Regions from separate parts of the Homo sapiens genome. Here region 2 is linked to region 1. The links come from fine-mapping of genetic effects on gene expression. Tissue or cell type: whole blood. Region 1 holds a variant in brackets; the other region holds the start of a gene. All regions are shown on one strand. Distances are from middle to middle.

Region 1 (2,683 bases):
GTATATTTTCTTAAGGCCTCCTATAGCCACTCGAGGAAGGCGGTAGGATTTTCTTCCTTTCCCTGAGTTGTGGTGGACATCATTGAATAATTCATGGGGTTTTTCCTAATTCTCCTTAGTCCTTCTAGAACACAGGTCAACAGATGTTTGCGACTCCAGTCCCCATGATCTGAGTCGAGGTCCCAGTGGGGATCCATACTGGGGATGGCTTGCTGACCAGTAGGGAATTTGTCCCTTTCTTCAGCTGTCATCCTATCATTTACTTGATTAAGATAAAAGGTATCTCCAAACTCTTGGGCTGCAGCTAAAGCTCCATTCTTTTCATTAAAGACCAGGGTTTGATCTAACAATAGCATGACATCTCTCCAAGTGAGGTCAAAGGTTTGCCCTAGACCCTATAGGACATCTGTATACCTATCAGGATCATCTGAAAACTTCCCCAGGTCTACCTTGATCTGCTTTAAATCGAGAGGGAGAAGGGACATGTACCCAGATTGGGCCAAAATCCCTACCCCTATAGCTTGAAGGGGACATAAATGATAGCCCAGGGGGTTTTGTGGTCCCTTGGAGATTTCTTTGCTTGTTTCCTTCTGGGTGGGGGAGATTAGACGAGGCTTATCCTTAATAGGAATGGGAGCTGTAGGAAGGCTAGGATATAGAGGTAAGCTGAGAGCTCCTCCTGTGGGATGTAAATTGCAAGCTTTGCATAGTTGTGGATTCTCCTTCAATGAAAAGAAAGCTTGGACATAAGGTATTTCACTCCATTTGCCTTCCCTCTTACAGAAAAAGTCAAGCTGCATGATAGTATTGTAATTTATACTTCCTTCAGGTGGCCATTTTTCCCCATCAGAGAGAGAATATTGGGGCAAGGCCATAGTGCAGAAAAAAAAAATGAGCCACCTCTTTTTCAGGGTTTCTGGGTCAAATTGGTCCCAGTGGCTTAGGATGCATTTCAAGGTTGAGCCTGTTGATGCCTGAGTGTTTCCCATGTGAAAGAAAAACTGCTCGCAGTTTTGGTTTGTTTTCCCCCCTCCCCCACCCAAGAACCTGCAACAGTCCCTGGACCCTGCTGATCGTAATAGTTGCGCTCACCGAAGCAGCAGCAGAAACACTAGTTTTCCTCCTAGACCACAAAGAGGACTGAGGAAGGTCAGATTTAGTGGCCCTTACTGATGCATTCTC[G/A]GAAACATGCATCCTTGCCTTTCCTCTTAGACCACAAAGAAGACTGAGAAAAAACAGATTTAGTGGCCCTTACCAACACATTCTCGAAGACCTGTTAGAGTCCTAAGCATTTTCTCCTGTTAGTATTGGGACCTTACCCTTGTTCTATAAAGATGTTATGTCTCAAAATGGAGTGAAGGGCCATACCCTGAGGGAGGGAAGGGATCTCTAGAGTGATGCCTTTTGTCCTCACTTCTCATCATGTGAATAGGAAGGATATCATTTCTGAGGCTCCCCATATCCTAGCTTTGGGAATAGCCTTTGTTAGGCCTGCTAGTCTGAGGAGGGATCCTAAAATTCCAGATAGTCTCCCCACTGACAGGGCTTTGGGCAAAGATTGTCTTTCTGATTGGTGAGCCCAGATGCCTAAAGAAAGGAACAGAGTCCTGAAATGTATACTAGAAGTCGTTCTTATAGGAGAAACTAGAAAAGCACCAGAGACAGGGAGTGGTTTTTAGAAACAGGACTAGCCTCGGAGAGGAGAGGTGGGAGGAAGTATGTCTGACAGGCATTAGGACCCAGGAGGCAAGGGTCAGGATAGATAGGATAAATGGGCAAGTCTCGCTTGGGTGACGTGACTTTGAGAGTTCCGCTCATGGCTGCAGGGTCAACCAACTTTTTGTCAGGGCCCTGGAGCTAAATGGCTTTCCTCTCTGTTGACACTTGGCTCAGTCCGGAAGTACAGGAAAAGTGGAAGCTGGTTCCAGGCAAACCAACGCTCCCAACTCCAAAGAGTTGGGGATTGTTAGAGAGCCCTTTCCCAGAAAGCCCGACACCAGTGTCTTTAGTCTGGTGGCCACGCTAGTTGCTTTTAACTGGCCGACAAGTGCCCGGTGTTTAGCCCCTGAATTCTAAGGAAAAATAGGACAGAATAGCAAGCAAAATGGGTCCGATGGTACTCACCAAAAGGCGATATCCCAGACAAGCCCCCAAGATGTGTCCAGAGTTGGTTCCTTCCAGTGGGTTCGTGGTCTCGCTGACTTCAAGAATGAAGCCGCGGACCTTCGTGGTGAGTGTTACAGCTCTTAAAGGTGGCACGGACCCAAAGAGTGAGCAGCAGCAAGATTTATTATGAAGACCAAAAGAACAAAGCTTCCACAGCGTGGAAGGGGACCCGAGCGGGTTGCTGCTGCTGGCTGGGGCGGCCAGCTTTTATTCCCTTATTTGTCCCTGCCCATGTCCTGCTGATTGGTCCATTTTACAGAGTGCTGATTGGTCCATTTTACAGAGCACTGATTGGTGCATTTTACAAACCTCTTGTAAGACAGAAAAGTTCTCCAAGTCCCCGCTCGACCCAGGAAGTCCAGTTGGCCTCACCTCTCAGTCTTATCAATTCTGCCAGCTGCTACTGAGCCCTTGCACTGTGCTAGTTTTTCCCAAGCCCACACACACACTGGGGAGCCAGACACTGAGGATACAGCAAGTTCTTGCCCCACAAAGCCCATGCCCTTTAGAGGAGACA
Region 2 (2,683 bases), 200 kb before region 1:
GGTGGTGGATGCACTTAGAATGTTATTAGAAAATGTCAAATTGCCCAATTTACACTCCTGCCACTCCAAATGGGGGCATGCCTCACACCCCTGCGTGGTCCAGTACACAATGAATGCTCATTTTGTGAAGTCACAGGGTCAAATCTTTCTCCGTGCCTCATCCCACTTAATCCTTGCAACATTCTCAAGAGGCGGGTAGACGGGGTGTGGCCACTACCATCATATCCATTGCACAGTTGGAAACAGACTCAGCGAGGTTACTTTGCTGGAGGTCAACCACAGTGAGGCATGGGGCCCGGCTTAGCTTTGAATCCAGGTCAGAAAGCACCAAAGCTCATTCTCTCCCATACATTTTAGGGAACTCGGGGAGAGGGACCCTAACTATTCCGAAGGCCTTGCCCCTTGGCAAAGGTTTGTTGATTGTGATGGGAATAGACCTACGGTGGCGGGGTGGAGGCTCTTGCTGCTTTACCCTATGTTCTCGGTTCTCCTCCTTTGCAAAACGGATCGCTATGTCTCCTTGCTTGGCACTTTGCAAATTGGGGAACGCTAAGCCCACATTCCGGCCACGGGTTTCGAACCTCCAGCCTGCACGTTCCCGGCCGGTGCTGATGCTGTGCTGGGTCTCACGTACTCAGCCGCCGCCTGATAACCAGGGCGGGGCCCGGAGCTTGCGGGCAGTGATTGGCACCTGCCCCAGCCTGTCCGCGCCTCGGGCTGGCCCCTCAAGCCAATACTGGCTCCTCTCTGTGCGGTCGTCGGGCGGGCCCTGAGGCTCCCTTGTCAATCCAAGGCCCAGCTGCCGTCGGGTTGGTCGCGGCAGCCTTGGCTGGCGTGCGCCCCCTCCAATGAGAACAGAGCCGGTCAGCGGGCACGTGGGTGGGCGCCGGCGTGTCCCCGCCGGTCTGCCAATGAAGAGGCGAGGCCGGCGTTTGTCCCCGCCCAATCGCGGCGCGCGGTGGGCGGGCCGTGCGGTGTTGATGGGCCCGGCGGAGGGGAGGGGCGGAGCTGTCAGCTCCGGCCAATGGGCGCTCGGGCGTGGATCCGGCAGCCAATGGCAGTCGGGGCGGAGCTGGCGCGCGGCCTTATAAGCCCCCCCGCGAGCGCTTGCGGAGGGCTCGGTCGCCAGCAACCGAGCGGGGCCCGGCCCGAGCGGGGCCTGGGGGTGCGACGCCGAGGGCGGGGGAGAGCGCGCCGCTGCTCCCGGACCGGGCCGCGCACGCCGCCTCAGGTGAGCCCACGGGGAGGCCGCCCGGCCGTGTCCGAGCGCGGACCCCGCCGCCATGGCCGCCCCCGCGTCGCGGCTCGGGGCTGCGGGCGCGCCCGGGACTCGAGGCCCAGGCCTCGGGCGCGGCCTGCTCGGGCCGGGCCTCGCGCTTTGTCCGGGCCGGCGGGGCGGTTGGGGCGTTAACCGCCCGGCCCGGGGGCGCCCGCTGGTTTTCGGGCGGGGGCGGCGGGGCCGGACAATGGCGGGGCGCGCCCAGGGGCGGGAGCGGGGGCCCCTTCCCGGGCCGGGGGCGCGCGGGGGCTGGGCACAGACGGCCCCGGCGCCCCGCACAAAAGATGACAGCGTGGGTGGCCCCGGCCGGGCCCTTTTATCACCCGGGACAAGCCTCGGCCTATTATTATTATTATTTTTGAAAGAAAGCAAGAAAAAGGAAAAAGACCCCAGCCCCTGGGTAACCCCCGCCTGCGTTTCTGGCCCTTTGGGCGCCAGGGGGGCTAAGGGGAAGCCCCCCAGCTGGACACCCAGGGATGCCCCCTAAATGCCTATCATTGCTCCTGCACTGCCCCCACCTCCGGTCAACCTGCTATGCCTTGGTAGCTTCCAAACTTGCCCCCCTGTACGTACCCGAAACCCCCACCCCGCCATAAGCATATGCAATCTGGATTTTAGAAAAAAATCATCTTGCTATGCAACGGCAGCCTCCACGAGTCTCTCCGTCCCTCCCCCTTCCAGCCTGATCGCCATCTCGAACGAAGCCCCTGCTCTAGAGAAATGAATTGAGGAGTTGCTTCCGCCGAGACCCCTTTTCTGTGTCCCCCGTGGACATCCCCCTGGGAGCTGGGGACGGACTCGCTCTGAAATCTGCTTGACCTGGGGTCTGCCAGGGCCCAGGTCTGCGCTCAGTGGTGGCCATGACAATCAGGCAGGACGGGGGACTCTGTCCACCTGGGCACGGTGGAAGGTTTTAAGGGGCATGTTTTCCGCCCCTGGGGGCAGTGGAGGCATGGACTGCTTTTGGGTGCATCCCATCTGTTTGCTTGGGGGAGGATGCTTCTGTTTTAATAATTTACCAGCACCCTGTGAGGAAGTGTTCCCCGAGTTGTGAAACTAGTGAGAAGGTGGTTCAGCTCCGTGGAGCCTAGTGATCCTGTCATATGTGAAGAGCGTCTTTTTCCATGTGTTTCTGGCTGGGGCGTGTATTCAGCAAGTTCCTTTGGGTCCCACCGGGTGCCTGCACTGTCTTGGGATCTCTGGATACTGGACTGAATTCAAGGGATCGGTGCCCTGCCCCAGTCCTCTGCCTCAATGGCCATTTATCAGAATGTCCCCGGGCTGGAGAATGCTCCTAAAAACAGCACCAGTCCTAAAGCAGGCTCATTAGACGACTCCTATGGGCTTTTATCACTGCCGTTATGGGAGCTAATGACTCCCCTAATTCTCCAATAATAGCTTCCT

Evidence for each region. PIP is the estimated chance that this variant, and not a neighbour inherited with it, causes the effect.
Region 2: KDM4B starts here. The variant in region 1 is fine-mapped to the expression of KDM4B in whole blood (TOPMed, PIP above 0.99).

Annotation. Positions count from the first base shown.
Region 1 is chr19:5,163,241-5,165,923 of GRCh38, forward strand. No RefSeq gene overlaps it. Among named protein-coding and RNA genes, the nearest start is that of PTPRS-AS1, 13 kb to the right of the region's middle. RefSeq lists a silencer at 2,320-2,539. The variant G/A (reference allele first, on the strand shown) is at 1,183.
Region 2 is chr19:4,968,000-4,970,682 of GRCh38, forward strand. KDM4B (lysine demethylase 4B) reads left to right here and starts at 1,114. Exons shown (of 23, transcript NM_015015.3): 1 at 1,114-1,231. RefSeq lists silencers at 578-677, 988-1,287 and an enhancer at 2,554-2,603.